Linked DNA regions of Homo sapiens. The protein of the gene in region 3 purifies or fractionates together with the protein of the main gene of each other region. This does not show direct contact. Each region holds a gene or a part of one and is shown on either strand. Other genes may lie near its edges.

Evidence for each region.
Region 1: the proteins of ETV1 (region 3) and STK40 purify together in Homo sapiens (affinity purification with mass spectrometry; 3 studies listed by BioGRID and IntAct, with this or other methods). This does not show direct contact.
Region 2: the proteins of ETV1 (region 3) and DET1 purify together in Homo sapiens (affinity purification with mass spectrometry; 3 studies listed by BioGRID and IntAct, with this or other methods). This does not show direct contact.

What each region holds. Positions count from the first base shown.
Region 1 is NC_000001.11:36,345,522-36,356,601, forward strand, and holds part of STK40 (serine/threonine-protein kinase 40), read right to left. Parts: intron 9,913-11,080; coding exon 9,685-9,912; intron 8,896-9,684; coding exon 8,843-8,895; intron 3,295-8,842; coding exon 3,179-3,294; intron 1-3,178. UniProt on the Homo sapiens protein: May be a negative regulator of NF-kappa-B and p53-mediated gene transcription.
Region 2 is NC_000015.10:88,515,242-88,526,321, forward strand, and holds part of DET1 (DET1 homolog), read right to left. Parts: intron 1,733-11,080; coding exon 1,541-1,732; intron 1-1,540. UniProt on the Homo sapiens protein: Component of the E3 ubiquitin ligase DCX DET1-COP1 complex, which is required for ubiquitination and subsequent degradation of target proteins. The complex is involved in JUN ubiquitination and degradation.
Region 3 is NC_000007.14:13,888,457-13,897,474, forward strand, and holds the end of ETV1 (ETS translocation variant 1), read right to left. Parts: intron 7,632-9,018; coding exon 7,410-7,631; 3' UTR 2,773-7,409; downstream 1-2,772. UniProt on the Homo sapiens protein: Transcriptional activator that binds to DNA sequences containing the consensus pentanucleotide 5'-CGGA[AT]-3'. Required for olfactory dopaminergic neuron differentiation; may directly activate expression of tyrosine hydroxylase (TH).

The DNA.
Region 1 (11,080 bases), on a different chromosome or scaffold from region 3:
GGCTCTTTCCAGCGCCCGGTGCCAAAGAGCAGCTGCGGTGACTGTGTGGCTGACCCCATGGCTGACTCAAGGACAGCCCCCTTTTCCTAGAACTTGCTCCACCAAGTGGGGTTGCCAGTACAGAATCTATTACTTGTACCACCATTCTTAGCTCTGTATGGTTCCAAAAAAGGTGCTGCCTCTCCTCCCGTGGCTGGAAGATGCTTCCTGTTGAGCTGTCCTGCTGGCTTAGGCAGGAAGGATCTGCTTCCAGGACCTGTGTAGGGTTCCCTCAGCCCGAGCCTCTGTCCTGACCTGGAGGTATGAATGGCCCCTCCCCAGACAAACTCGCTGGGAGCCTGACCTGGGCAGGCGACCTTCCCTGGGCTTTGGCTTCTGAGGGGACACTGTACCCACAAGCTTCCCTTTCAGCAACGATCATGCCAAACACTAGGTTAAGGGCATTACATATATATATATATATATATATATTTTTTTTTTTTTTTTTTCCTGAGACAGAGTCTTGCTCTGTTGCCCAGGCTGGAGTGCAGTGGTGAGATCTCGGCTCACTGCAAGCTCCGCCTCCCAGGTTCACGCCATTCTCCTGCCTCAGCCTCCCGAGTAGCTGGGACTATAGGCACCCGCCACCACGCCCGGCTAATTTTTTTTATTTTTAGTAGAAACAGGGTTTCACTGAGTTAACGAGGATGGTCTCGATCTCCTGACCTCGTGATTTGCCCGCCTCGGCCTCCCAAAATGTTGGGATTACAGGCATGAGCCACCGCGCCTGGCTGGTTAAGGGCATTATTTAATCCCTCAAGTACTACTACTGCCATCCCTATTTTACAGATGAGAAAATGGAGGCTCAGAGAGGTCTGTAACTTCCCCCAAATTCACATGGTTATTAGCCAGACTATCACCTCCATGAGGGCCAGACCAGGCCTGCCTTTTCACAGCTCCATGCCCCATGCCCATGCTGGGCACATGGAGAATAAATGAAAGGGCAGACCTGGGTCGGAAACCCACATGGTAGGGCTGGTACTTCAGCTTCTAACCCAGGAGGGAGGAGGCTGAAGTCAGAAGGAGATTGGAGGCCGTGATCACACAGCTGGTTCAACAGCAAGGCCAGAATGAGAACCCAGGTCTCTGGTCTCCCAGTCGAGGATTCTCTCTGATTCAGTCAGATTCCTTTGTTTCATCCTCCAAGACTGGCACGAGTCTGGAAGAACCAGAAGGATAGGCTGCTGGCAACAGCAGGGAGGGCCACAGAGCCTCAGACTGCAAATGAAGGCCACTCTAGGCTGGTGCTGCAAGAGAGGAGTCCCATCCAGGGCTAGCCCACAGCCTGAGCCCTGCAAACAGGCACAGCCCCACTCACAGGCTGGGTGGAAGGAGGAGCCTGGCTCTATCTCCTATGGGGATGCTTTGGGGATTACTGTAGAGGGTGCCAGACTGTGCTGGGCCATGGGGGTGGTGCCCCAGGAGTTAGGGTATACCCCTGGCACCCAGTTCCCTCTAGCAGAGGCTGTAGTGACTCTAACCAAAACCCCCAGGTCTGGGGAATGGTGCTACTGTCTTTGCACACGGGCAGCCCTGGGGACAGGCCTGGCTCTCCAGCAGAAGCGGCAGCTGGGGGAGCCTCCGAGGGAGTTGTAAGTGCTTGTATTACAGCAGCCTGCTCACCAGGATGTGTGTGAAGAGCTGGGACGAGGCTGGCTCGGCCACTGCACGGAAAGGGCGCACTCATGTGTGGGGTGGGGATGAAGGATCTTGGAGACAACCCCAAGTTCTCCATGTTGGAGGGATGGGAGCTGGTGTAAGCCCCGGTTCCCTAAAGGATTTGGGCCAAGGACAAGGGGGAAAGAGAAAGCAACAGAGTCGACAGTGAAAGAGTTGCGAGAATGGGCTTTAGTGGGAGGCAGCCCTGGGGCTGCGCCTCCATTTTCCAGTTTACTATTTATTAGCTACGACTTTGGACAAGAGATGTCATCTCTCTGAGCCTCAATTTCCTCATCTGTGAAAAAAGGACTTAAGATAGATATTGGCCTCACAGGGTAGCTGTGTGGTTTAAACAGATAACGCGAGTCACGCTCAGCACAGTGTCTGGAACTTGGAAATCAGATCAGTGGGCAGTAACTTTATGAGTTTTTTTTTTTCTTTTTTTTTTTTTGAGATGGAGTCTCGCTCTGTTGCCCAGGCTGGAGTGCAGTGGCACAATCTCGGCTCACTGCAACCTCCACCTCCTGGGTTCAAGCGATTCTCCTGCCTTAGCCTCCTGAGTAGCTTGGATTACAGGCAACCGCCACCACGCCCGGCTAATTTCTGTATTTTTAGTAGAGACAGGGTTTCACCATATTGGCCAGGCTGGTCTCGAACTCCTGACCTTATGATCCCGCCACAGCCTCCCAAAGTGTTGGGATTACAGGCATGAGCCACTGCACCCGGCCTGTGAGTTACTTATTTGTTTCGTGTATTATCTGTCTCATCCCCACTAGAAAGTCAGCTCCATGAAGGCAGCAATGTTTGTCTACTTTGTTCCCTGTTGTCTCCAAAGTGTCTAGAACAGAGCTTTGGGCCTGGGTGGCCCTCAGCAAACAGTAACAGAATGAATGAACACAGACAAGGAGAGAGGGCTCTGAAACACAAACTCACAGCAGCACACTCAGTTAAGAACTGTTCAATGGCTTCCACTCGCACTTGAAGTAAAGGATGACATCTCTTACTGAGGCCTATGTCAGGCCTTGCCTGATCTGGCCCCTGCGCACCTCTCTGGCTTCCCCTTGAACCAGGCTCACTTTCTGAGCAGCCTGCAATTGCTCCAACGTGCTGTGCTGCCTCTGGGACCCTCAGCCTCAGCCTAGTCACACATACCCAGGGAATTCCTAGTTTCCCTTAAGATCATAGCTCAACTGTCACACCTTGTGGGGAAAGTCCTCCAAGCACCCTTCATCCACTCTCACAGCAATCCCGTTCCTCCCTAGCACTAACCTCAGAGGAATTAAACATGCATTCATGTTATCATTACGTCTTCCACCTCCAACAGACCAAACATTTTGTATGGGGAGGGACAGTACTGGTCTGGGCCCCCAGTGAAGCCCCAGCACCTTGCCCAGGGCCTGCCCACAAATTTGCTGAGTGGACTGTCACAGAGCCTGGCTGTATTGAGCTTAGAGGCCCAATGTCTGGCACACACACGTACCGCTGAGCACGTCGGGACTGATGTAGGCAGGGCTCCCTCTCTGGTCCTTCAGCAGGTCCCCCTCGCTCACCAGATGCTTCCCGAGGCAGAAGTTGGTGATGGTTATCCGATGTGTCCTAGGAGTGGGAGACAGAGTGAACAAACCTCAGTGTCTATAGCAACAGGCACAAGACACGCAGGCAGGACACACCTCACTGGGCCAACACCCAATCCTGAACAGTAGGAGGTAGGCTTCTCGTCAGAGGGTGAAGCAGCTGCCCCGACCCCCTCTCCAGGGAGCAGAGCAGAGGAATCAGGCCCCAGACTTTTCTGGCCACCAGCCGAGCTGTCCCAGCAGGGATCGGCTTCTCTCCCAGGTATCTGAGTGTTGCACAGGCCATCCCTGGACCTGCTGCCCGGGCTGAATCTCGGGGTACAGCTTAGGGCTTAGAACAACTTTCAGAGATTTCTCAAAAACAGCCTCACGTAATATTCTAGACTGGGAGTGACCTGAGATTTAGTTCAATTTCCTCATTCACACATGAGGAAAAGGAAGTCCAGCAGAGGTGAGTGACTCCACCTTGGAAGGTGACCCAAGGGCTGGCCCCGAGCCACCTCCGAACCACGGAATATGTCAGTTCTCACTTGGCCCCACAACCACTGCAGAGGAAGAAACTGACAGTGGCCAATGAGGGGGATTTTCTCACGGTCCTGTTTCAGATGATACAACAAAGGCACAGGGAAGTGAAAGGACTTGGCCAAGGTCATGCAGCTGGTGAGCAGAAGAGCAGGATCCAAGACCAGGTCTGCAGGGCCCCAGAGCTGCACACACAACTGACAGCTGCCTCATGCCCAGATGTGTCCCTGGGCAGGGCCCCAGGCCCCGAATGACTTTTCCTTCTGTTCCATCAAAGCTGACTCATCCCTTACCTCGTACTTGTGACTCTGCCCTGGCTAGAACATCACAGACCCTCCCTCTGAAAGGCGTGGGGCAGGGCAGCTTTGGGCTCTGATCCTTTGGAGAAAACTCACATGTGGACAAAAGGAAGTGCCCCGAGAGGACCCTTACACCTTACACCACACTGGGGGCTGGGAGGGTGGGCAGGCCCTGTCTAAGAGGCCTGGGAAAGGTTTCCTGGCCCACTGGGGCAGGCAGTGAGGAAGGATGCCTCTCTACCCAACTGCCCTGCTCCTGTGTCGGCTGGCTGGGTGGAGAAGCTAGGGGGAGAAGCTGGGAGGACAACAGGAAGGAGAGCTCCATGGGGGCCTTGGGCTGCCTCTCCCTACAATCAGCTCTCAGAGGCAGAGGGCATGTGTGGCTGCTGGCGGATTTCCCCGGGAGCCGCATCCAGGCGGCTCTGAGAGCCCTCGGTGATCTCGGGGAATTCTGCTGGCAAAGGGCTCGATGCAAAACAAAGGCCAGCCCGTCCTCTGGATTCCCCACGGAAACGCCAACTCCAGCGCCTATACAGGTCCGCCCTGTCAGCTGCCATAGGAGTCTGACTGGTGGCCCGCAGGCGGCTAGAGCCTGATCGCACAGGTGAAGGGTCACTGCAAAGGGTCACTTGCACGTCAAGGAGTGGGCTGCTCTAGCTCTGAAGCTCCAGTGCCGCTGCCCTGAATATGGGGCTGCTCGGGCCTCTTGTCCAGAAGGTTCCCACAGAGCAGAGGCACTGTGGGTTTTCTCCCCTGGTCAGAGATGGCCGCGGAAGCTGCAAATGCATCCTGTGGGTCTCTGAGGCTCAAGACGCTGAGAGGAGGACAGCTCAGGAGAAAGTACGGTGGGTTTGGGAGCCAGGTTCCTAGTCCTGGCTCTGCCACTTCCTTGCTCTGTGAATCTCTTGCTAAACCTCAATTTCCTCATGCGTACAACAGTGAAATCCCAGCACCAAACTCCAGAACTGGGTTAGGATTCAGCAAGATAAGATAATCTCATGGAGGGCACTTAGCCCAATGCCTGGCAAATAGTAGAAGCTGGTGTCCTCTCATCTCCGATGGTTGGCACACCTGGTAGGAAAAGACTCTGTCTTGGAGGCGGTAGGGGAGAGGTGCCATGGTGTGACAACAGGCCCCGGAGAGCACATGCCAGTGTGGCTGAGCTTTCAACTCAACACTGCTGGTGGGACTTTCCCACCCTCTGCCAGGGCACGGGCAGGCACAGCTGAGGCTCTGCAGGGCTGAGCGGCAGGCGCACTGGAGTCTCTCCACAGGAAGTGGCACGGGCAGCTCCAAGTCCTCCTGAGGTTTGGCAACACTCCCCTGCCCTGCCACCACCACCCAAGTGGGGGGTGCATGGCTCCCCGGGAGTCCCAGACCCCCTAGTCTGGTCCTGACAGGAGGGGGCAATGGCAGAGTGGGACGGAGGGAGGGGACGTGTGTCAGTAGGATCGGCTCTGAGTGAGTCACGCTTTAGCTATGGCCCTCTGGGCTGCCACAGTGTTTTTCTCCTTTTCTAGGAACTTGGTATGTTGCTTGCCTACCAAAAAGAAAGGAGGAAGGAAAAAGACCCCACAGCACCTCACATAACCCCAGAAGAGGATTTCGAATTTCGATCCTTTTAAAATCCAAAGCGGGGTGAACTTGTTGTTGCAGCTGCCTTGCCAACACCTCCCCCTGTCTGCTCCTTGAGAGCTCTCTGCTCTGCTGAGAAGGCCTCCAGCTGGTCCGCCTACTGCTCCAGTGGAGTTATAGCCTGGCATGATGGGTGGGAAGGGGCTGGAGTGGGCTGGAGCTCCTTCAGGTCAACTGAACGAGGTGAGAGTGGGGCCCCAGAGCGGAGGGTGTGCCAGAGGACACACACGGAGCAGTGAGTCTCTCTGCACCACACTACCCTGCCACTCTGGAGCGCCCATGACTCAAGTAAAAGGCAGCCAGAACCTCTGTCTGCCCTGAGACACAAAAAGGGGGATTTATCAGATTCAGGAAGTACAACCAGGACACTGGGTATGAGTGAGGCATTGGCATTCTGCACCCTGAGGAGCACGCACTCACACTCACAGCAGAGCTGCTACAGCCACGCCGGCGTATGCAGGGAGGTGCGACCCCTCGACTACACTCCCAGGACCAAGGGGCCCTGGGGAAGTGAGAGTTGGAAGCAAATCCCCCAGTGACACAAAGGGCCAGGAGTGCTGGTGTGGTTAGCAGGCATGAGCCCGGCAAGTTCCCATGACAACCCTGGGATGTTCATTTACAGCCAATGAATGGCTGCTGTGGAAGGTCTGGGAGCTCTCTAGTCCAGCTGGAGGGCACATGGGCTCTGCAGCCAGATGGATTTAGGTGCCCAAAAAATATGCTCTCTCTTTGTGAACAGTAAGCCTGTAGTCCACAGCAGGATGGGACTGGCCCAAGGCCCCAGAGAGGGCCAGGGGAAGGGGCAGGACCCAATTTCCCAACTTTATGACAACTGGCTCTCCACAGCCCAGGGCTGGTTTGCTCGGGGCTCCCCACCACCTCCTCTCATGATGCAGAGCTATGGCTGGGGGACCGCTGGGCCCTCACCAGGGGTGTCCTCGTTGGCCACTCAACATGCAGCAGGCCTCATCTCCAGAGATGTGAGCCCATGGGTCCTGTTCTCCTGTCTCTCAGCGACAGGCTCTCCAGTCCTGGCTACATTAGCACTGGGGTGTGCCCGTGATGCGCCAAACCCCATCATATTACGCAGCCTCACACCCACTGATTTGCATCTCAGGCCAATCTTCCCAGGAAGCCAGGATGACCTTCACTTTCACAGATGAGGAAATGGAAGCTCAGAGAAGTGCTTGGTACCTCAATATATGAATTCAATCAGTAAGTACCCAGAGGACCACACTCTCACGGTCTCCAAGATAACGAAGAAGTGGCACTGGGAAGTGAGCCAGGTCTGACCCCCATGTCAGTGCTGCTTCCGTCCTCCTCAACTCACTCACTCAGCCAGTCCAGGGTTCAAGCAGCTCTGGAATTTCCTGTTTCCCTCCCTTCCCCCTGCAGAGCATAGCAGGGCAAGGTTCTCATCCCTTCACTTTCTCAGCCTGGCAAATCCCAACTCATCCTTCACGAATTGACTCAGGTGGCAGCCACTGTCCCTCCACATGTCCCTTGCCCTCTGCACGCCAGTCCTCCACACATGATACCATCTTCTGGTCAGTACACCATCAGATGGTGGGCTCCAGAGGGTAGTGGGAACCACTGAGCGTTTCTGTCTGCAGCCCCAGCACCAGGTGGTGCTAGTCGAAGGATGGAGAATGCTTAGCAGCTGAGGTGCACAGCATCGTCCCGATGGCCTCTCAGGCTGGAGCTATGGGATCTGGAACCCCCAGCAGTAATTCCCCATCAGTTGAGATGGGGCACAAGGCAATGCCCCCTCCCCGGAGGCCAACCTCCAGGCAGCTTCTTTTCCTCTGACCACTGTGGCTTTGGCCTCTTTAGAGGACAGTGGGCCTCGGGCCCTTCCTGGGCTGGGCTGGCCACATCATGGAATGAATCACCCACCACAACACTTCTGCTGTGAGATTCAGGCTGCCTTTGTAAGCCCTTCAACCTGCTCAATGCCGAGTTGAGAGGTGACAGAGGGGAGCTCAGAAATAATGGGTGGGGGCGGAGTGGGGGAGATGTGCCCTTCTCAGCCCTGCATTTCAAGGATCATGGTAGCCCACAGAGTGGGCCCACTTCCTGCTGGTCCTGGGTTCCTACATGGTTGGTGGTCCCTCTAACATGGTGAGACAGTGGTAGCACTGTCCCAGATCACTCCAAAGAGGCCCAGGACCCTCTGTCGAGGCGGGATGACAACCTGAAACCAGGGCCGTGCTTGGTGTCCCTCTGCTGCTGGTTCACCCCAACAAGGGTGGGCCGCCAGATCCCCTCCAAGTCTAAGGCATGCTCTCCTTGCTGCTGAGAGAGCTGGTGGCATTTTACAGGTAACCACTCACAGCTGCATCCCTCTCCAGGAGGCCCTCTTAGCCAAAAGAAGCTGCCTTGCCTAAGAGAATGCCCCTCCCTAAGGACAGCAGACATTCAGTGACTGATTGCTGTGGGGGCACAAAGGCCAAGCGCGGGCCATCTGCAGGCCATCCCACTCTCGAGTTTTTCAGGCTGAGGCCCTGCTGGGACTTCACTGCGGTTCAGCTTCTCCCTCTGCCTAATTCCACCCCCTCACCCTGAGAGCACTTCACAGTAAACCTTCTGCACGTAAACCTCAGAGTCTGTTTCCTGAGGAAATTGACCTATGGCAAGGCATCATTTTGCTCGTTCCTTCACCCCATTTGTCCATTCAAAAAATATATATATTTTTGTAGAGATGGGGTCTTCATTATGTTGCCCAGGCTGGTCTCAAACTCCTGGGCTCAAGTGATCCTCCCGCCTCAGCCTCCCAAAGTGCTGGGATTACAGGCGGGAGCCACCGCACCTGACCATTTAGTCCATTTTTATAGTAATTTTATGAGTACCCACTAGGAGCCAGGTGTGACAAATAAATGGACAAGGGAGATCTAAAGTTCTTCCCAGAGCTCCCTTTCTGTGGCTCAAAACTCCCAGTCTCAGCAAGCCCCCAATTCCCATGTTCATCCCATCCCGAGCCCTGGGATTCCTGGAGGAAGTGGGTTGTTTTGAGTCGGAATCCTCATGAGGACACTTCAGGGCACTGGAGAGTTGCAATGTGTAGCCTGCCCCAGCCCCGGGGTAACTGTATGGATGTAGAGACAGGGATCTTACCTCTTGTTGAGCACCATGTTCCCCAGCTTCAGGTCTCTGTGCACGATATTTTTCTGTAAAACAACAGGCGTATGGTTTACATTGTCAATGTGAGAGGTGGGGTCAGGGCCCACCCTGTAAGATGGGGGCTCTCCAGGTGTTCGAGAAGGCAGGAAAAATTCTATGATGTGTCTCTTTAGGCTCCAAGCACAGGCAGATCAGGACAGTTCTAAGTTCGCGTGACCTGCGCGTCTGGATGGGGAATGAATGTGCACCTAGTCAGTGTCTCCCCATCTGTGGCAGCTTCTTTAGCTCTTTCTCCCCTCAGGGCAGTGGCTGGTGGCGAAAGTCACTCATTTTTTCCCCTCCATTAGACATTCCATGGACAGGATGGATCTGGGGGTCGGGGAGGAGCTGTCATGGCTTTGTGACTAAGTACCACAGGCTCGGCCCACAGAAGCGGCACACCGGGAAGAGGCTCAGGCTCTCCTATCCTTTGTCCCAGCGTGCCTGACACCTCTAATCCTACAAAAAGCTCAGATGTGCTGTAGTTGCTTGGGTGGGTATCTCACTGTCATCACTACATGGGGGTGGACACCAGGCCTCTTAACTGATGGGGAATTAACACAGTTGGCTGTGGTAATTACCACAGCTGGGCTGCAGGTCAGCCCTCACCAGGAAGGTGGCCTGCAGGGTGGCACTGTGCCTCACCCTGTGCACCTGCCATTCAGTCACTCTTCTTTTGGACACTCCCAGCTGCAAAGCACACCTGGGTGCACAGGACAGAGCTGCCTTCTGCTCAGCAGCAGCAAGAAAGGTGGCTTTCTGTGGCCAGAAGGCGCAGCAGCAGGGTGTGGCCTCACCTGGTGCAGGGCCTCCACCACGCGGACCACGTCGTAGAAGATTACCACAGTCTCCCTCTCGCTGAGCCTCTTCTCCTTGATGACGTAGTGCTGCAGGTTGATGAGGTCAGCGGTCTTATCGCTGAAGTCATGAGCACAGAGGCAGTCCAGGACGAGGCAGATGCGCTTCTTCATCTTCTTAACCATCCGGCTGGATTCTGTGTCCTCAACGATTTCACAGGTGCGGTCCTGGGAGGCAAGGGGGTAGCGCAGGGCTTGGCTGTGAACTTGGCAGGGCCAAGGCCAGGGCCTGGGACTCTCCTCTGGAGTGGGACACTCAAACCAGTGAGGGAGCCTGGAATTAGCCTGCATGTGCGGGCCAGAGAGGACTGAGGCCTGGGCAGCCTAGACCATGGGGCAGGTCAGCACTGTGCAGCCTCTTGTGTGCCAAATGCCAGGACCAGCAAGAGGCTGAAGCTAAAACATCTCAGGTGAAGGCTTAATGCTTTGATCATAATGCAAAGGATTCAGATCAGGTCTGGGCATTTAGAGCCCAAGGGCCCTCTTAGCCCAGTGCTCAAGCAGCAAAAATGGGAATCCATGGCACCCAGATTCCAGTAATCACCAACAGAACCCCCTTTTGATATCTAAGATGGCGGAAGTTAGAAAGAGGTCAATCTTGGCAGGCTCCAGAGGCCATACAGGTTCTGTGTATCCAGGACACCTGTTTTCCTCAAGTGCCTTCCTGCTTTCCTCTTTTCTCAGAAAAGAGGACTGTCGGGATGCAGTACTCCCGACAGTCACATGATGGCTAAGAGTGACTCTGACCTCAGACTGCTGGGTTCAGGCCCCAGCCACCTTGTCTTAGCTGTGGGACCTGGGGCAGTCTGCTTACCCTCTCCAGGTCTCTAGTTCCTCATCGGTAAAAGGGAGCTAGTAATCTTTCCCCCACAGCCCAAGAGAAGTAAATAAGACAATCCATGTCCTGTGCTTAGGTCATGCACTGCCAGGGCTCAGTAAGTGGGTACTGCCACCAATGTTGTGGCTGCGAGATGGACACAATGGTAGCAAACTCTAGACCCATTTTCCTTGCTGAAAGGTATTTCGAGTAAGACAAAAAACAGGGGGACTTCATCTGACCAGCTTGAGGAAGTCCTTGGTGTCATGCGGGGTAGACTGACTGTCCCCTCTGGGGAACTCCTGAAGGACTGAATATCCACATTTCTTCTTTTTCTTTTTTTTTTTTTTTTTTTTTTTGTGAGACGGAGTCTCACTCTGTTGCCCAGGCTGGAGTGCAGTGTCACGCTCTCGGCTCACTGCAAGCTCTGCCTCCCAGGTTCATGCCATTCTCCTGCCTCAGCCTCCCGAGTAGCTGGGAATACAGGTGCCCACCACCATGCCCGGCTAATTTTTTGTA
Region 2 (11,080 bases), on a different chromosome or scaffold from region 3:
CAGAATAAAAATGACTGGCCAGGCACGGTGGCTCAAGCCTGTAATCCCAGCACTTTGGGAGGCTGAGGTGGGTGGATCACCTGAGGTCAAGATTTCGAGGCCAGCCTGGCCAACATGGTGAAACCCCGTCTCTACAAAAATACAAAAATTAGCCAGGTGTGGTGGTGGGCGCCTGTAATCCCAGCTACTTGGGAAGCTGAGGCAGGAGAATTGCTTGATCCTGGGAGGCAGAGGTTGCAGTGAGTCGAGATCGTGCCATTGCACTCGAGCCTGGGCAACAGACAGAGACTCCGTCTTATAAAAAAAAAAAAAAAAAAAAAAAAAAAAGACCGAAGGGACCAAATGCAATGCATGAACCTTGTTTGAATCTGATGCAAACAAATTAACTATAAAAAGAATATTTATAAGACAACAGGGATACATAAAAACTGACTAGATATTTGAAGATATTAAAGATTTTTTGTTAATTTTTTAAAGATGGGGTAATGGTGTTACTTGTTTTGCTAGGATAGCTTGGATTTCCTTTAAAATAACCCAGGACAGTGGTGGGAAGGGGAGGGAGTAGGGGTCGTGATGGAAATAGCTGAAACAGGAGTGGCCACGAGCTGGTAACTGTTGAAGTGGGTGATGGGTACATGAAGGTTTATTATGCTCTTCTACTTTTTGTATACGTTTAAAACTTTCCATAATAAAAAAAATATTAACTAGTTTTTGGAACTTGACTCTAATTTCCCAAAGGAAATATTATAAATGGTGATTAATTATACAGACTATGTCACACAGGCACATTTAATACACAATGAGACTGGATGATGAAATATATCTATCATAAAGATCTAACTACCACTGTTTCTGTGTGAAAAAGACCTTCCAAGCTCCAGCCTATAGCCTCAGGAACACACCCCCCTTGAGATAACTCCACTAGTGACAATAATTCCAGCTCCTCCCCCTAATATTATTACAGCACACAGAACAGGCTCCATATATGTAGTGACAGTTGGGTCTGTGAACTAGACTTCTGTGAGGAAAGAATTTCTTGTAAGACGTCAGTTTCAAACTTCTAACAATAACACAGTAGTCTACATTCCAAAATTCCTCCAAGTGAGGAAGCATGAGTTTCTTCTAAATCTGTCAGCAGGTCCCCAAATTGTCTCTGCTATTTTTTCTATGAGGTAACATGGCGGGATAAAATAATTTGTGTTAGATACATAATTATAAAGTCTCAATGTCAAAAACTATTATGGAATGGTATTAGATTATTAAATGGGAAAGTACAGCTTCCTCCCCTGGATACCTTTAAAAGAGGACAACACTTATCTGAATTAGATGTTCTGATGAGAAGCAAAGAGTAGGAATAATTTAGGAGACTAGCACCTAAATGATCACAGCTCTCACTGCATTATAGAAATAGCCTGCCTTTTCAACCTTACCCATGAGTACGAGTCACAGTCACAATCAAATGATGTCCAGAAAAAGAGAAAAAGAAAGCAGGCCATCTTCAGCCCTTGAGCAGTTTGTAGCTATAGCAGTGACACTGTACCTGATTGGGTGATCTCCACAAGTCTTGGGCCGCTCCATGACAGATACCCACTTGTCATCATAACTGAAGAGAGACAAATCCAGATAGGGGCTACCGCTGTAAGACTGAGCACTGATGGGGAGCTGACCCAGCAGCCGGCGTACTGCCTCTGTGTGCCCTCCATACTTGGCATTTATAATAGTGTCTTTGAACCTAAATGAAAGGACCGGTGAGGAAGGCTTTGTTAGTGAGTACACAAAGCTGTCTTGAATTTTAAATTGACAAATATATGTCTAAGAACAACTCATTCTTTAAATACAAATTAAAACCTAGGTAATGAATTAAGATAGAACTGTCTCTCACACATTACAAGTCTGGCCAGCTACAAATACTTTTAAAAAGCAAAACATATAACTAAAAATGGAAAACAACAAATTACTTTAGAAATGTGTTTGGGTTTTGGGTTTTTTTTTTTTTTTTTTTGAGACAGGGTCTCGCTTTGTTGCCCAGGCTGGAGTACAGTGGTGTGATCTCAGCTCACTGCAGCCTTGACCTCCCAGGCTCAAGTGTTCCTCCCACCTCAGCCCCCAGAGTAGGTGGGACTACAGGCACGTGCCACCACACCCAGCTAATTTTTGTATTTTTTATAGAGATGGGATTTTGCCATGTTGCTCAGGCTGGTCTTGAACTCCTGGGTTCAACTGATCTGCCCGCCTTGGCCTCCCAAAATGCTAGGATTACAGATATGAGCCACCACACCCGGCCCTACTTTAGAAAAGTTAACAAAGACTCTACAAACAAGTTTAAAATGAGTATAACTAGTTTATGGCAACTATTTCTACTCTTTTCTAATAACAGCTCAACTGGGGAAAAAGGTCAAGAACTTATTTTCCCCAAATAATTGCCTTAGACTGAATTAGGAAGGAGTTACAGAGAACCCTGAACAGAAGCAGCCTCTGACTCTTCTTGGGATCACCAACTTCTAGCAAGCCTTTCACAAATAAATTACGCATTCTTTGTTTGTTTAAATAAAATTTGGAAACTAGCTACCTATATTCCTGCAGAGACACCAGTATCTAGAAGAATAGTAACATACATAGAGTCATATATCTGACTTATCTTTGAAAATAATAACAGAACAGTTATTTCTCATCACTGTCACAAATGCTAAATTTTATTTTATTTTTATTTTTTGAGACAGGGTCTCACTGTGTTGCCCAGGCTGGAGGGCAGTGGCACAACCCCAGCTTACTGCAACCTCCACCTCTCCTGGGCTCAAGCAATCCTCCTACCTCAGCTTCCCAAGTAGCCAGGACGACAGGTGCGTGCCACCACACCCAGCTAATTTTTTTTTTTTTTTTTGTAGAGACAGGGTCTCGCCATGTTGCCCAGACTGGTCTTCAACTCCTGGCCTCAAGCGATCCACCCACCTCAGCCTTCCAAAGTGCTGGGATTACAGGCATGAGACACAGTGCCTGGCCACAAAACTAAATTTAATACTCTTTGACAAGTACTTCTATTCTTCTGGAAATTTACCCTAAGGAATCACTCCTACATGCAGAAAAATCTCTGTGTACATTCATACAGCATTGTTTATAGAGGAAGAAAAAATTAAAAAGCTAATGGAAAACTACCATTTTCAAAGATTATATGGTAACAGGGGAAATGTTTATCACATTTACAAATAAAAGAAGTAGGATACAATACTGTCTATATAATATGGCTAAAAACACAAAGAAAACAAAAACTCACACTTAAAGCAAAGACTGGCAGAAACACATTAAAATGTTAATAGTTGTATAATGACATTTTGAATTTTTTCCTTATTTTTCACTATCCTACAGCTTCTTAGAAAGAATGTCAACTGTCTATCAGTATATATTTTTTAAACCTCTATATTCAAGCATATCATATGGTTCAACAATCAAGGGGATATCAATTTTTTTTAGTCTGGGAGAAAAGTATAATATCTCATCCCTGAAACAAATGGAATAAAAAACTTCAGTGTTCCTAACTTTCATGAGACCACAAAGATTAATTAGTTGGGGGTAATTTTTATTTTCACTATTAACCTATGGTATTAGATGGACATGAACACTTTTCTGCTCCCCCTAAAGAAAGCCTAGCAAGCAACACTGCTTTTCCATTACTCCTACTGACAGTAATTTTCACAGCCTCAGTATAAATCATAAAAATAAATCTTGGGCCAAATAGAGCTTATTTTTTCCCTTTCATTTGAGCTGAAATAAAAGATCCTGGGCACTTCGGTTTTCAGCAAGACCTGGCACCATCTCATCTACACCTTAGCCCTGCCTGACTCACCGACTCCCTGGCTTTCAAAGGTAAAATGATGGGGGCTGGCTCACAGCTTTGTGATGACCACAAATCAAAGCATCTGTGATAATCTACAAGTTGAAACAGTTCCTCTTCCTCCACAGCACCTACCACCTCCACTCTCCATGCTCCCCACTGATTAAAAGCAGTCACTCTCTTCGATGTCTTCACACTTTAGTTCCTGCCCCAGTGTCACTCTGTCCAGCTATACCTCTCTTAGTTCTCGGTAATTTCAAAATCCTCAGAAAGGTTCTTTACAGCACCATAGCCTCCTGCTAGTTCCTTGACCTCCTCTCAACCTCAACTGCTTATTCCACAGTCACACCCTCAACCTCACCATTACCAACGACTGCAAACCCTCTCTAGTCACAGGGTAGACCGTCACGCTCTCCAACCATCTTCTCTCCCATCTTTCCAGCTCACTCCCTCTATTCATCCCAACTTCAGCAATCCTTTAACCCCCACAGGACCTATAATCCACTGATTCTACCAACTTCTTCCCATCCTACACTCATCATATCCTCTCTTCCTTCCTTCCACATAGATGAAATTACTAAATCACTCCGTTGCACACATCCTCAACAATCTTAAATTCTCTTGCTTTGTGGTACTTGCTTAGAAAAACTACAGCCTCCAGTTAAGCTCAACTCTTCCTATTCCGTGCCTGTACTACTTGGTTTTCTCCATGGCTGTAGAAAAAACATACAATGCTCACTTTAAACTTATGGCCATGAACTTTATGTGGGCCCTTAATGCTGCAGGGCACTCATGCTGCATTTCCATAGTCCTTCCAGACTCCCATGCTCTTTCATGACTATTTCATCTCCCCTCCTCCATGCTCACTCTTAGCCAATGGCATCGCTTACTTTGTTACTAACAAATGGAAGTTAGCAGAAGATAACTTTTTTAAAGCCCCCATCAGCACATCTACCCAACATTTGTACATATATAACTTTCTGCGCTCCCATGCAAGGCAAATCCCTCTGCCAGTGCACTAGCACCCAACCCCTCTCATACACTTAAGCAGTTCTTCCACTTTCCTAAACTGTTTCCCCTTCTCTACAGGATCAGTCCCATCTGTATGCAAACATGCCATTTTTTCCCTCTCATCTAAAAAATAACAAAAACAAAATCTAACACTACCTACCCCTCCAGCTAATGCACCACTTTTCAGCTCCCATTGTAATAAAACTCCTCAAAACTCTTTTCCATACTGTCCAACTTTTCTCCTCCCATTCTTTCTTAAACCCACCCTAAAGAGGCTTTCACCCCTACTATCTCACTCAAACTACTCTTGTCAAGGTCACCAATGACCTGCACATTGCTAACTCCAATAAGTTAATTTTCAGTCCCTATTGTACTTGACTCGTCAGGTGGCTGTGACACAGCTAACACTCCTTTGAGAAACTATGAGATATCTCTACTTACAGAACTTTTGATCTTCTCCCCTAAACCTGCTCTACCCACAGGTTTACAGTTTAATGGCAACTCTCTCTTGCAAGCTGTTCAATCCAGAAACATTAGAATTATCTTTGACTTTGTTCTTTCATGGCCCATAGACCATCCTCCATTAATCAATTGGGCTCTAACCTGCAAAATACATTGAAAATATAATTACTTACTATTCCCAATGCTACCACTCTGATCCAAGCCACCACTGTTAAACAACAAATAATCAATCACAGAGGACTTGGTATGTGCCAGACACTCTTCTAGGTGCTTAGGATACATCAGTTGACAGTAAAGAACTTAAATCCTAGTGGCAGGAAACAGAATGCCATAGCTATTACTTACTGGATCACTGCAATAGTCTCTTAACTGGTATCCCTGCTGCCACCCTACCTGCCTACATTCTACTCTTAACAGAACAGCCAGAGTGACTCTGTTAAAACATAAGTGAGACTACATCACTCCTCTGCTCAAACATGACACAATCTACCTCATCTATAGTTAAAGCCAAAGCCATAGAATGGCCTTATGTATCTGCCTACCTCCCCACCCCAAATCAGGTCTCTGACCCTATTTCCAAGTACTCTGCCCCTCGCTCACTCCAGTCCAGCCACCCTGGCCTTCTTGTTGTCCCTCAAATGCATCAGATCTACCTCAGGGCCTTTAGATATGCTATTCCTTTTGCTGGGTATATTCTTCTTCCTGCTATCCACATGGCTTGCTCCCTGACTTCCTTCAAAAGCTTTCTCAACCACCACCTCCTCAGTGAAGCCTATGCTGACAACTCTACTAGGAAAACTGGCAATCTCTTCTTAATATACTCAAACCTACCAGTATTCTAACAATTTTGTTTTTTCCTTGGACACACTTTTCTTGGACTCCTCCACTTTCGTGCTTCCAAATGGTCTGACAGGTGGACAGTCATTCTGCAAATTCCCTTTATCATTATCCTCAAGACTCTCTTTGCCTCTCTCCAGTGTCAGACTATTTCCTACATACCATTCTTTTGTGGTCTATTGAAGTACATCTCCATAGGCTTCCTTAGAAAAGGTACATGAGAGGTAATCTTTTCAGACTTCACAGGTTTGAAAATGTCTCCATTCCACCCTATTATTTGGATATAGAATTCTAAATTGCAAATCACCCTTTTCATAGAATTCTGAGGGCATGATTTTAATGACTTCAAGCTTTCAGTATTATTGATGTCTGATGTCATTATGATGACTTATTGTTTTTACATGTGAAATGTATGTTCTTTCTCAAAGTTTTCACAATGTTCTCTTTATCACCAATGTTCCAAAATTTCATGATGATATGCCTCTGTGTGTGGGTCTTTTTCATTGACTGTACTGGATACTAGATGAATCCAGTGGTGCGCTGATAAAGGTTTAATTTTTCTTGGGGGAAAAAAGCCATGATTTGTAGTGCTTCCTGCTTTCTGTGGTGTAAATCTTCCTGCCAAGGTACCAATGTGACATTACTCAATGTGCAGTTGCCAAGAGAAGAGCTGTAGCACCTTATTATATAGTATTTACACCATATAGATAAAATAGATGCAAAAACCACAAGAGCCTAAGTAACAGTAAAATCGGAAATAATTTGGAAATAAGTTTTAATAACGACTTTGTTTAACAATCAGCTTGCAAAAATTCCTGAAAGTTTAACAGTCAGATCTCATGAGCCAGGACAAGCCAGCTCCAGAACTGGATGGTCCTGCCAATCTAAAAATTCATGTTCTTCAGTCCTGGGAATCTATCCCATTATTTCTCCACTTTGTGTTCTCCACTGCTTCTTCAGGAATTAGACAGATATTTGGCCTCCTAGGCAGGTACTCTATTTTTTTTTTAAATGTTTCTCTTCTAGGTCCCTTCTCTTATCTATTTACTCTACTTTTTTGGAGAGTTCCTCCACTACATCTAACACATTTTAAATTTCCAAAAGTTTCTCATTGTTCTAGGAATGTTCCTGGTTTTTTTTTTTTTTTGAGTTGGAGTCTCGTTCTGTACCCAGGCTGCAGTGCAGTGGCGCAAATTCGGCTCACTGCAAGCTCCGCCTCCTGGGTTCACGCCATTCTCCTGTCTCAGCCTCCCGAGTAGCTGGGACTACAGGCGCCCGCCATCACACACGGCTAATTTTTTTTGTATTTTTTTTTATTTAGAAGAGACGGGGTTTCACCATGGTAGCCAGGATGGTCTCCATCTCCTGACCTCATGATCCGCCTGCCTCAGCTTCCCAAAGTGCTGGGATTACAGGCATGAGCCACCGCGCACCCGGCTGGAATGTTCCTGTTTTTATACTTTCAATTGATTCAGCGAATGTAACATTGTTTTTTTTTTCTTCTTCTTTTTTTTTTTTTGAGATAGGGTCTTACTTTGTCACCTACTCTGGAATGCAGTAGCTTGATCTCGGTTCACTGCAACCTCCGCCTTCCAGGCTCAAGCAATCTTCCTGCCTCAGCCCCTCCAAGTAGCTGAGCCGACAGGCGCATGCCACCACACCCAGCTAATTTTTTTGTTTTTTCGGAGACCAGCCATGTTACCCAGGCTGGTCTTGAACTCCTGAGCTCAAGCGATCAGTCCACGCCAACCTCCCAAAGTGCTGGGATAAAAGGCATAAGCCACCATGCCAGACCTGTTTCCTTACTCTTTATTCTTTATTCTGTTTGTTTTGTGTTGGTCACTTTTAGGATAAAGGCTTTCCTGAAATGACTCATGATCCTTGGTGACCATTTTTATTCTTGAACATTTATTTTGACCTATAAGGGTCCCAATTTCATTGATTTTTACCAAAAGATTGCTGGGAAAAGATTACTATAAAATTTAGCATTTAGAACCATGTGTTCACAAGAATTAAAAAAAAATTTCAGCTCCCTCTCACTCTTGTCTCCCCTTTCCACGGTCTCCCTCTCCCTCTTCTCCCCTTTACACAGTCTCCCTCTGATGCCAAGCCGAGGCTGAACTGTACTGCCGCCATCTCGGCTCACTGCAACCTCCCTGCCTGATTCTCCTGCCTCAGTCTACCGAGTGCCTGGGATTGCAGGCGCGCACCGCCACGCCTGACTGGTTTTTGTATTTTTTGGCAGAGACGGGGTTTTGCTGTGTTGGCCGGGCTGGTCTCCAGCTCCTGACCGCGAGTGATCTGCCCGCCTCGGCCTCCCGAGGTGCTGGGATTGCAGACAGAGTCTCGCTCACTCAGTGCTCAATCTTGCCCAGGCTGGAGTGCAGTGGCGTGATCTCCGCTCGCTACAACCTCCACCTCCCAGCCGCCTGCCTTGGCCTCCCAAAGTGCCGAGATTGCAGCCTCTGCCCGGCCGCCACCCCGTCTGGGAAGTGAGGAGCGTCTCTGCCTGGCCGCCCATCGTCTGGGATGTGAGGAGCCCCTCTGCCCGGCTGCCCAGTCTGGAAAGTGAGGAGCGTCTCCACCCGGCCGCCATCCCATCTAGGAAGTGAGGAGCGCCTCTTCCCAGCCGCCATCACATCTAGGAAGTGAGGAGCGTCTCTGCCCGGCCGCCCATCGTCTGAGATGTGGGGAGCGCTTCTGCCCCGCCGCCCCATCTGGGATGTGAGGAGTGCCTCTGCCCGGCCGCCCCGTCGGGGATGTAAGGAGCGCCTCTGTCCGGCCGCGACCCCGTCTGGGAACTGAGGAGTGTCTCTGCCCCACCGCCAGCCCGTCTGGGAGGTGAGGAGCATCTCTGCCTGGCCGCCCCATCTGAGAAGTGAGGAGCCCCTCCGCCTGGCAGCCGCCCCATCTGGGAAGTGAGGAGCGTCTCCGCCCAGCAGCTGCCCAGTCCAAGAGGTGGGGGGCAGCCCCTGCCTGGCCACCGCCCCGTCCGGGAGGTGGGGGGCGCCTCTGCCCGGCTGCCCCGTCTGGGAAGTGAGGAGCCCCTCTGCCCAGCCGCCACCCCATCTGGGAGGAGTACCCAACAGCTCATTGAGAATGGGCCATGATGACGATGGCGGTTTTGTCGAATAGAAAAGGGGGAAATGTGGGGAAAAGAAAGAGAGATCAGATTGTTACTGTGTCTGTGTGGAAAGAGGTAGACATGGGAGACTCCATTTTGTTCTGTACTAAGAAAAATTCTTATCCTGTTGATCTGTGACCTTACCCCCAACCCTGTGCTCTCTGAATCATGTGCTGTGTCCACTCAGGGTTAAATGGATTAAGGGCGGTGCAAGATGTGCTTTGTTAAACAGATGCTTGAAGGCAGCATGCTCCTTAAGAGTCATCACCACTCCCTAATCTCAAGTACCCAGGGACACAAACACTGCGGAAGGCCACAGGGTCCTCTGCCTAGGAAAACCAGAGACCCTTGTTCACATGTTTATCTGCTGACCTTCCCTCCACTATTGTCCTATGACCCTGCCAAATCCCCCTCTCCAAGAAACACCCAAGAATGATCAATAAATACTATTAAAAAAAAATTTTTCAATGTATATATACATTATATTTTCAATGTAGCAAAGTATGATTAGTGGTCAACAAAATATGTTAGCATACAATTCTGTTGGGGAGACAGAAGAGACATATAAATTTGAGAATCAGAAGAAACAATGTAAAATTCCCAATTATGGGTATAATTTGCTGTGAATTTTTCATATAAAATACTTGAATACCAAATTACTACGGTAATTAGCATCCTTTTGTTATATTTTAAAGTGTTGGAATAACTTTAAGTATCAATGTTTAATATCCACTGAAAATAGCATCCTCTGCAACTGCTTAAATTTAGTAGTAACAGGAAAAAAAAATTTAAAAATCGACTTAAAAATATGTGAGGGTACCCCCAATTTTTCAAAATCTTTTGGTGGTACAGTAAAATTCTGAAGATCACTGAGCTGGAATATACAACCTTTCTCCTCAGTTTTTTCTGGAGCTTTCTGTAATTTTGTTTAATTCCAGATGTATTCTGAAATAATTTTTGGAAAACAGAGTTCCTTCTAATTCCTGGATAACTTCATTCATTCAGCAAATACCTACAGAGCTCCTCCCACAGGGCAGACACTGGCCTTGGTGTTGTGGATATGGCAGTAGACATAACAGACAAAATCCCTGCCCTCATGGAGCTTATCATCTAGTGACTTCTTTGATGTTTTGAGTGAGTGTACCCATCTTTTGTTCTTTTTGTTTTTTGTTTTTGAGGCAGGGTCTTGCTCTGTCACCCAGGCTGGAGTGCAGTGGCATGCTCATGGCTCATTACAACCTTTGCCTCCCAGGCTCAAGTGATCCTCCCACCTCAGCCTCCCTAGTAGCTGGGACTACAGGCATGCACCACCACACTCGGCTATTTTTTTTTTTTTTTTTTTTTGCATTTTTTGTAAAGATAGGGTTTTGTCATGTTTCCTAGGCTGGTCTTGAAACTTGGACTCAAGCAATCCACCTGGCTTGGACTTCCAAAGTGTTGGGATTACAGGCATGAGCCACCACACTCAGACTGTTACTTGTTAATTATCTGCTTAATTTTGAAGCAAATTTTAAAAGAAAATTCATCCCAAAATGAAAAAAAGCAAAATCTGACCCATGTTCTGCATCTAAAAATTCTTCTATACTGAAGAGATACTAAGGCAGAAGATTTGTGTGAACCAAAGAAAAAGGAAAACGCAAGACAGTTGTCTGAATTCAATAGCCATCTATCTGTAATTGAGTACTATCTTTTTATATAAACATGATGCCACTGCATTAAGAGATATGTTTTTCCCAGTGGCAGTAATGCTTATTCTGATTCATCCACTCACTGTGGTCTGATCTATCTTTGGACCTAAAACAGGTATTTTCCATTAC
Region 3 (9,018 bases):
TTAAATTATTAGAAAGCATAAATTTGCATGTTTAAATTACTAATTGTAATATATGAAAAAGCATTTCTTTGACCATTTTTAAAATTTATTTTTACTTACATTTTTTTTCTTTTTTTTTTTTGAGACAGAGTTTCACTCTTGCTGCTCAGGCTGGAGTGCAGTGGTGCGATCTCGGCTCTCGGCAACCTCCATCTCTCAGGTTCAAGTGATTCTCCTGCCTCAGCCTCCCAAGTAGCTGAGATTACAGGCGCCTGCCACCGTGCCCAGCTAATTTTTTGTATTTTTAGTAGAGACGGGATTTCACCATGTTGGCCAGGCTGGTCTTGAACTCCTGACCTCAGGCAATCCACCCGCCCCAGCCTCCCAAAGTGCTGGGATTACAGGCATGAGCCACCATGCTCGACCCTAAAAAACAATTTTTTAAAGATGGAGTCTTGCTGTCACTCAGGCTGGAGTACAGTGGTGCAATCTCAGCTAACTGCAACCTCTGCCTCCTGGGTTCACGTGATTCTCCTGCCTCAGCCTCCTGAGTAGCTAAGATTACAGGTGCCGATTATCATGCCAGGCTGATTTTTGTGTTTTTAGTAGAGACAGGGTTTTGCCATTTTGGACAAATTGGTCTCTAATTCCTGACATCAGGCGATTCACCAGACTCAGCCTCCCAAATTGCTGGGGTTACAAGCATGAGCCACTGCACCTGGTCTCCTTGACCATTTTTGATAATACTTTATGAATAAAAAAATCTAAACACTTTGGAAATAGATAATGGTGATGGTTGCACAACACTGTGAATGTAATTAATGACACTGAATTGTACACTTAAAACTGGTTAAAATGATGAGTAGTATTTCATATACATTTTACTGCAGTTTTTTTAAGTATAAAAATATTTGTTTAAAGAACGTAATGTTTGCAAATATTTTTAAGAATAAAGAAAAGTAGTTCTGTGGTCACTGAAAGTAGAATAGTATTTTGCAGTTTAAAAAGTAATGGCCAGGCATGGTGGCTCACACCTGTAATCCCAGCGCTTTGGGAGGCCAAGTCAGGAGGATTAATTGAGTCCAGGAGTTCAAGACCAGCCTGGGCAACATAAGAACATGGGGATACCCCATCTCTACAAAAAAAACAAAAAACAGTCAAAAAAGTTGTGAGACCTCACCTCTATAAAAAAACAGAGACATTAGCTGGGAATAGTGGTGCACACCTGTGGTCCCAGCTACATGGGAGGCTAAGGTGGGAGGATCGCTTGAGCCTGGGAGGAGGTAAAGGCTGCAGTAAGCCGTGTTCGCATGAAACTGCAGCCTGGGTGACTGAGTGAGATCCTGTCTCAAAGAAAAATAAAAATAAAAAAAGTAATGTCACATGTGTAATCTTAATTTTTTTCTTCCCACCAACATTGCCAATTAAATTCCCACATTAAACTTTCTATAAGACAAATAATTTTAATGTTACTTAAATGTGTACAAGAATGCCATAGTCCCCTTTGCAGAAATGTCATTTAAAACAGTACTCTTTCATACAATAATTTCTATGTTTCTAGTCTTACTTACTTTCTTTCTTTCTTTCTTTCTTTTTTTTTTGAGACAGAGTCTCGCCCTGTCGCCCAGGCTGGAGTGCAGTGGCACCATCTCGGCTCACTGCAAGCTCCGCCTCCCGGGTTCACGCCATTCTCCTGCCTCAGCCTCCCGAGTAGCAGGGACTACAGGTGCCCGCCACCATGTCCAGCTAATTTTTTGTATTTTTACTAGAGACGGGGTTTCACCATGTTAGCCAAGATGGTCTCAATCTCCTGACCTCGTAATCTGCCTGCCTCAGCCTCCCAAAGTGCTGGGATTACAGGCGTGAGCCACCGCGCCCGGCCTTTAGTCTTACTTTCTATTTTAAAAACAATTTTTTGGCTTTTTCTGAATCATTTGACTTGAATCTTCCATGCTTTAAAAGTTTCCCGAAAATTCTATTACTTTCAGAAGTCCTGTCTAATAATATAAATTATGGGGACAGTGTATATAACTTTCTGAAGAGTTTGATTAGTATTTCTGTTTCTTCATTAAGCTGTACCCATCTCCAATGGAAAGAAACAAAGAGGTACTTCAATCAGTTTGATTTCTGAATGCTTAAAAACACTTAAAAAACAACTCAGTTTATTGTTGCTGTTGTTTAAATAGTGCTTGATTTCTTTTTAGATTTTTCTACAAGGAATATTCAAAAAAGAAAAAAAATTAAATAACACCGTGTTTCAGCAGAATCTGTTATTATTATAGATATTTTTGTCATTAGAAATTAAATCAGAAAAGTAGCTAGGTCCAAGTTCCCCAAAAGGTAGGGTTCATGATTTGCCTGTGACCACGACATCTTGACACCAAGACATACTGGTTTTGCCATTAGCTTCAGTTTCTCACCAGACAAAACCAAGCAATTTGGAGGCAGTAACATAATTCACATATCTGTGCTGTCTGGCATGTGGGAGTCACTGAAATAATTTAGTTAGTTCCCTTCCCCAAATTTCTCCATGATACATTTATTGAAGGATTTATGTGAAACAAGATATTTACAGAGATTAGAACGTAGAACTCAAAAAGGATTTATCAGGTGTCCTGGTATCTAAATTATCTAAAAGAATAATATATGGCAAAGTAGTGCAAACACATTACTTGAGTGCTGTGGTCATAAACTATTAAAAATGACACGATGATTAGAAGACAGTCAAAAATTTAGATGACGTTTATCAGTTTTAGATGTGCTACCTTTCAGAGTGATCACGACAGTCCAATATTTTCAGTTTCTGGGCTTTTATTTTAGATTTAAATTTTGAGCATATTTAATTTGCTATAATCATGATTTTCATAGCATGTTTTCTCAAACCGTAAGTATAATTTTAATACAACCAAGTGAATTAAAAATTTTCTTCCCCATAGAAGCATAAATATAATTTTAGAATGAAAGTAACTAATACTGGAGTCTATATGCAAAAAAGACCCTACCTTACATATGAATCCATAAACAATAGCCACGGTATATACACTTGTAACTGAAAATTCTGAAATCATTAATATTTCTATAAAGATATCCACTTAGTCTAATCAAATTCTCCTCTTAAACTGTACTTTCCATAAACTGTTTTTTTTTTAAGTATGTCAAAGTGAGTCTCATGTATATAAAAAAAGAAGTCCTAAAAGTACTAGTTGAGCTCTGAATAAACTGGGTGAAATTTTCTAGTATCATGCCCAACTATTACCATCTTTTTGAAACTTGATTTTTCCAATTCTTAGTAGAATTGCTTAATATGTACATTTGCCTTCTTTATATTTTTTCCACCATCACTTTTACCCAATTTGTATTTTTTTAATAATTCTATTTCCTCTCTTCTCCATACCAAATCGCAAATGGAAAATAGCTTACTCACTTCTTATTTTTAAATTTTAGTTTTTGTTTTCTAGGATTCCAAGTAACAAACATCCAAATGACCTTCTCCTCTGTAATGTTTTCTCATTACAAGCTCTGAAAAGGCTGCATGATAGACAAAGTGGCTCATTTTAGAAATCCCTATCATCTGGCAAAATTCTGTAGCTTCTGGCAATATATTTCTTTCCTGGTTATATAAAGATAAGTTGACTCATTTTGCAATTGTTCTTTTGAGTAATAGACATATTTTACACATTGTTCTTACCTAATAAGTAATAATCACTAGCAAATGATAAGATCACATAGTAACCCATATTAACACCAAAAGAAATGTATTAAAAAATAAAATCTGGATTAGACCACTGATTTAACTGTTATTACTATTATTATCATACCTTCTGTTTTTCTGTTTCATGACTTAGTGTTTTCCTGGGGGCTGGGGAAGGATTTGAATAATCTAAAGGCTTGATGTGATTACCAGACATTTTAGTGGAATAGTTGAAATTTAATATAGAAAGTTTTCAAAATTATTTATGCAGAATAAGGGGAAAATATCTCAGTGGTAAATAAAAGCAAACTCTAGTACTTTCAAATCCTAGATCCCTCAGCAGAACTCCACTGTTCCTGAGTAAATCAATTAGAGTCTTTGCTACACAGTCTTCCTCCTCCGTGCGGTGTTCTGAATAACAGCCCTGCCCTCACCCCTTACATCCATGTCCTAATCCCTGGGACCTATGAATAATTATCTAGCCAAAGGGACTTGGCACACGTCATTAAGTTAAGGATCTTGAGATGGAGAGATTGTCCTGGATTATCTGAGCATCCCCTAAATGTAATCACAAGCATCCTTATAAGAGGCAGGAAGGAAATTTGACTATAGTAGAAGAGTATGTGACCATGGAAGCAGAGATTGAAGTGATGTAGCCAGGAGCCAAGGAATGTCAGCAGACTCTAGAAGTGAAAGCTGGAAGAATCTCCCCTGGAGCCTCCAGAAGGAACCAGACCTAAGGACATCTTGGTTTTAGTCTCTTAAGGCTTCTTTTGAACTTCTGCCTCCAGAACTATAAGATAAATTTGTGTAAATTACTGAAGTTGTGGTAATTGGTTACAGCATCTACGGGAAACTAGACCTCCAAGATCCGCCCATGATTTGAGAAAAATGTTCTGCACTGTCAGTCTTGTGGATTTTTATTCTGAAGCACTTTTCATGGACATAACAAGAAAAATTATTTTTACTTAGTTATTTGAGTATAAGTGTTTGTTGCAATTAATCTATTGGGTATTAACATGTCATCATCAAGAGACAGCAAACAGCAGTGAAGATAAAAGCTGAGAGAAGACATTACATCATTAACAAATGATTTCTATGTTTGAGTAGCCAATTCAATGAGAAATTCAAAACACAAGAATCTTGCAGAAATCAGCTGCCAGATTTATTAATCTACCTGAAAACAAAAACATAAAAACTCAACCAAAAAGTGGAATCAAAACAGAACTTAAAAAATTTTAGATACATTTTTCAAAAGAGTTTATAATGTAATATTTTCAACCCTTCTGTATTGGAAATACACTTAATGTTGGTCAATTATGTATTTAGTTCAGTGAGTCACTACGTTAAAACAGCAAAACATATAGTTTGTCCTTAAATATTATATAACTAATACCATTTCTGCCATTGTTCTCTTGTGATAACGTTAGCATGGCCCAATTCTTCCTCACTGACTGACTAAAACTAGACTATTAAAAAGAAGAAAAAGGAGAAAAGAGAAAAAGAAAAAAAAGGAACAAAAATGAATCCTCAATACAGTTTTCATTCAGAATATATTTTAAAGACTCACTTAAATTTTCTCCTTCAATTTCACCAAATCTCAATTATATATCTCAATTCCTTTTTCCAATAAAACTTTCACTGAATATTTTAACATCTGTTTTTATTCTAAGTGCTGTAGATGGCCACATAAGCATAGTGGGGAGAAAAGGTTCTGATTTTTAAGGCATAGTTTTCTTTTTTAGGCCCAAAATGGGCCAAAATAATACATGATGTATATGAACAACAATCATTGAAATCGCAGGTTACATACATATTTTGAAATTGGAGTACTTTTTGTAGGATTAAATGTGAAGAGTAGCAATTTTGGTGTTTGGGTTTCTTGATAACTGCTCCACTTAGAGAAATGAGCTGTGATCTGTGTAGTTTTGGAAAATGGGTAGCTGGGGGGATCATCTTTAAACAATCTTTTTCATGCTCATCACGAAATGCTTTTACAATAGGTTTATTTTGACTTTGTGTTTAGAATTTTTTTTTTTTTTTGCTTTTTGCTATAGACTCTTTAAAAAAGTTGTTCTTCTGGATATTATTGATAGATGGAACAAAATTCATGTCCCTTGCTTGAATCTTTTAGCGAGCTATTCAGAGATTCTATATCCCCATTTACTCATGGTTTTTTCAAGGTGAATGAAACAACATACCCTGCTTTCAATATTTTCTCCAAATGCAAAGCAAAAACAGAACAAAAAACTTTGAAACTTTAAATCTTCTTTCAAACAATCCAATCACATTTACAGAAGTGTCCAAAAAGAGATGATGGATAATATCAGTGCCAGCACTATGTCATACAGCAACTTCCTCATATTCTTTGACGGTTTGTAAATAATTTTCCATATCACCAAAAGTTACAAAAGGTTCCACAGTTTCCTTTAGCAAGCTGAAGCTTACTCTTCATTTGTCAATGTGCATAAAAGCTGCTTATAGCATAGCATGGCGTAAGCTATTTTTTAAGCAATAAATGGTTTGAGTCATCTATTTTGTCCTGAAATGCTATCTGTAGTTAACTGCACTGCTTATAAATGGTCATAGTAAATTCAGCATGAAAGAGAATATTACAGAAAAGACAGCAGCAGAAGCATTAGCATTATCTAATATTTATATATGTTATCAACATAACACAGCAGTAAAAGGTTTAAATGCATATCAATGGGTACCATGTCTAAAAATTACTATAGTACCTATTTAGTGTATTGGATATTTTTCTTAAAGAGTGTTTGCTGTAACTAGAACAGCATAATACATGATTTAGTACAGTTAATTCTTATTGATTAAATAATGTATTTATGTACTGAAGAAAGTGAAAAGGAGACAGATATTTTTTGCTTCATTTTGATTCCAGATTTAACATTTAAATGAAGATTCCAAAGGACCATGACATGTCATTATTTAACTGAAATGGGCTTCAAAATATTTAAAAGACGGTATGATTTGTATCTAAACAGCAAGGTGGCACCAGATACACGTAATGCTACTGGCCTATGACTCAGTTTGGCGCCAGAGTCCAAAATTGTGCCCCTCATTTACAGTCATGGTGATTATTCAACTTCAGAGAGAATTACCCATTTTATGGTTATCCTCTGCAAGTCATATATAAAGCAAAATAAAACAACAAACAGCAAATGCAATCGCTAAATACCTTTTTACAAGTGGTGCAAAAACAGTCATTTCTAACAATTAAACTGCCATTTACAGTAGATTGGGGTTTTTTTGTACACCTGCAGAGACTCATAAATGACAGGGGAAAATGCCCAAGGCAAATAGTCTCCAAGTGGATATTTACACAACGTGAAATTAACTGTACCATAGATACCCCGATAAAATAAACATTATCTTATGTTGTTATGAAATCAAACAGACATGATATAGTTTCATCATACTCAAAACTTGTAGGACCCCATCCCAAGCCTAAGTAAAAAGTAATCCCCAAATCCCTCTGCCCATTCACCCATTAGCTTCCTGTTACACAGAATAAATGTTTAGATTACTCCCACCCACCCTCAAATAAAGTGCACAGTCCATGGCAGACCATAGAATAATGCAACAGGAAAAGCCCCTTTTTGTGTATTATTATTTAAAAATAAAATACAAACAACAGAAATAAAACAAAGATTCAGCAATTCTCTGTATCTTGCAGAAAAAAGGAAAAGCGCAAAAACGCCCTGCTTGACTGTCACTTGTGTTAATACACGTAGCCTTCGTTGTAGGGGTGGGGGTTGCAGCAGCCCCCTTCCGGCATGTAGGCCATGCTCTCATCAAAGTGAGAAAGAGGCACTGTGTCCTCCTCGTTGATGTGACGTTCCATGTCTGTCTTCAGCAGTGGACGCTGATTATCTGGAAAGGCCATGGAGAAAAGGGCTTCTGGATCACACACAAACTTGTAGACATATCTCTCTCCAGCCACCTGATGATAACATGGAAGAGAAAAACCCATCCTCACCATCGCCAGATGGGGAAGGACAGGAAGGAAAAAGCCAAAAACGTGGTTTAATATACAGGAAAGGATGGGTAACTCTGGCCCAAAAAAGCAAACAACTAATAGCAGATACACATAAAAAAAAAAAAGTCTTTACTTTGTGGAATAAACTACAGTTCAGTCAAGGGAGATGCAAAATGTTGACCTTGAATAATAATTAATTAATTCCAGATATAGCTAGGAAGCACAGGAATTTGCTTGTCTTAATATAGAGGTAAACTTACATCGTTGTTTTGAAAAAAAGTCAATTATTTAATGCAGGCATTTCATATTGAAAGCTTTTTTTCTGCATTTTAAAAGGTAGTATCTACAAATCTGTACTTTTAAGGTACACTGTCCCTCTTAATATTACATATCTGAAATGGTAGAAAAACTAAATTCAAAATTTAAAAGAAAAATGTGCTTTATTCCCAATAAGACTAGACTAGTAATTCACTGATTCACAGAATAAATGGATTCTTTACTTTTTTTCTTTTTTGGCAGTGTGTGTTGAAAGAAGAAAGAAAGGAAAGAAATAAAGAAAGAAAGAAAAGAGAGAGAGAAAGAAAGAAAGGAGAGAGAAAGAAAAAGAAAAAGAAAGAAAGGAAAGAAAGAAAGAAAGAAAGAAAGAAAGAAAGAAAGAAAGAAAGAAAGGATACACAGCCTCATTTAAATGAAAGATGGATCAAAAGGACAGTATCCTGGGTACATCACTTTTAAAAATGAAGGCAAGATGCATTAGACAGAGTTAAGGATGTGTGTAAAGTGTCAAATTGAAGTAAGAGGTGTAAAAAAGTGAAAGGAATTTAAAATACACAATGCACAGGGAGGAAATGAGAAAAAGAAATGTGACAACTGCCTGGAATAAAGAAGTAGCATAATTTATAGGGTATGACATACCCCAAACTTAAATTCTGAAGAGTAATGCTTCCCTAGAAAATTATAAACAACTGAGTGAGATGAATACGCCTCTTGTTAATAGACAATGCTGAGATGCTCTCAAAACCCGGGGTGGGGGGATGGGTGGATGAATACAGTTCTTTCTATTAACTTTGATAGTCACTTTGTATGGGTGTGTGTAAAGGTATGAGATTTTAGAAAGCTGAAGGTGACACAACACCTCCATGTTCCTGTATATCAACAAGGCATTTGCTAGTTGATTTTTGATGTGGGGCAACAGTGTGTTCCTGGGTTATAAAGTATTGTTATATCTTTGAGGGAAAAGTAACAATTGTCAATGAATGCTGCTGCTCTGAATTCAAATTTAGAACATTTTTTGTTTCTTTTGCCCTGAATTTAAGTAAGAGGAACCACTTTAGAGAATTCAAATAATCTG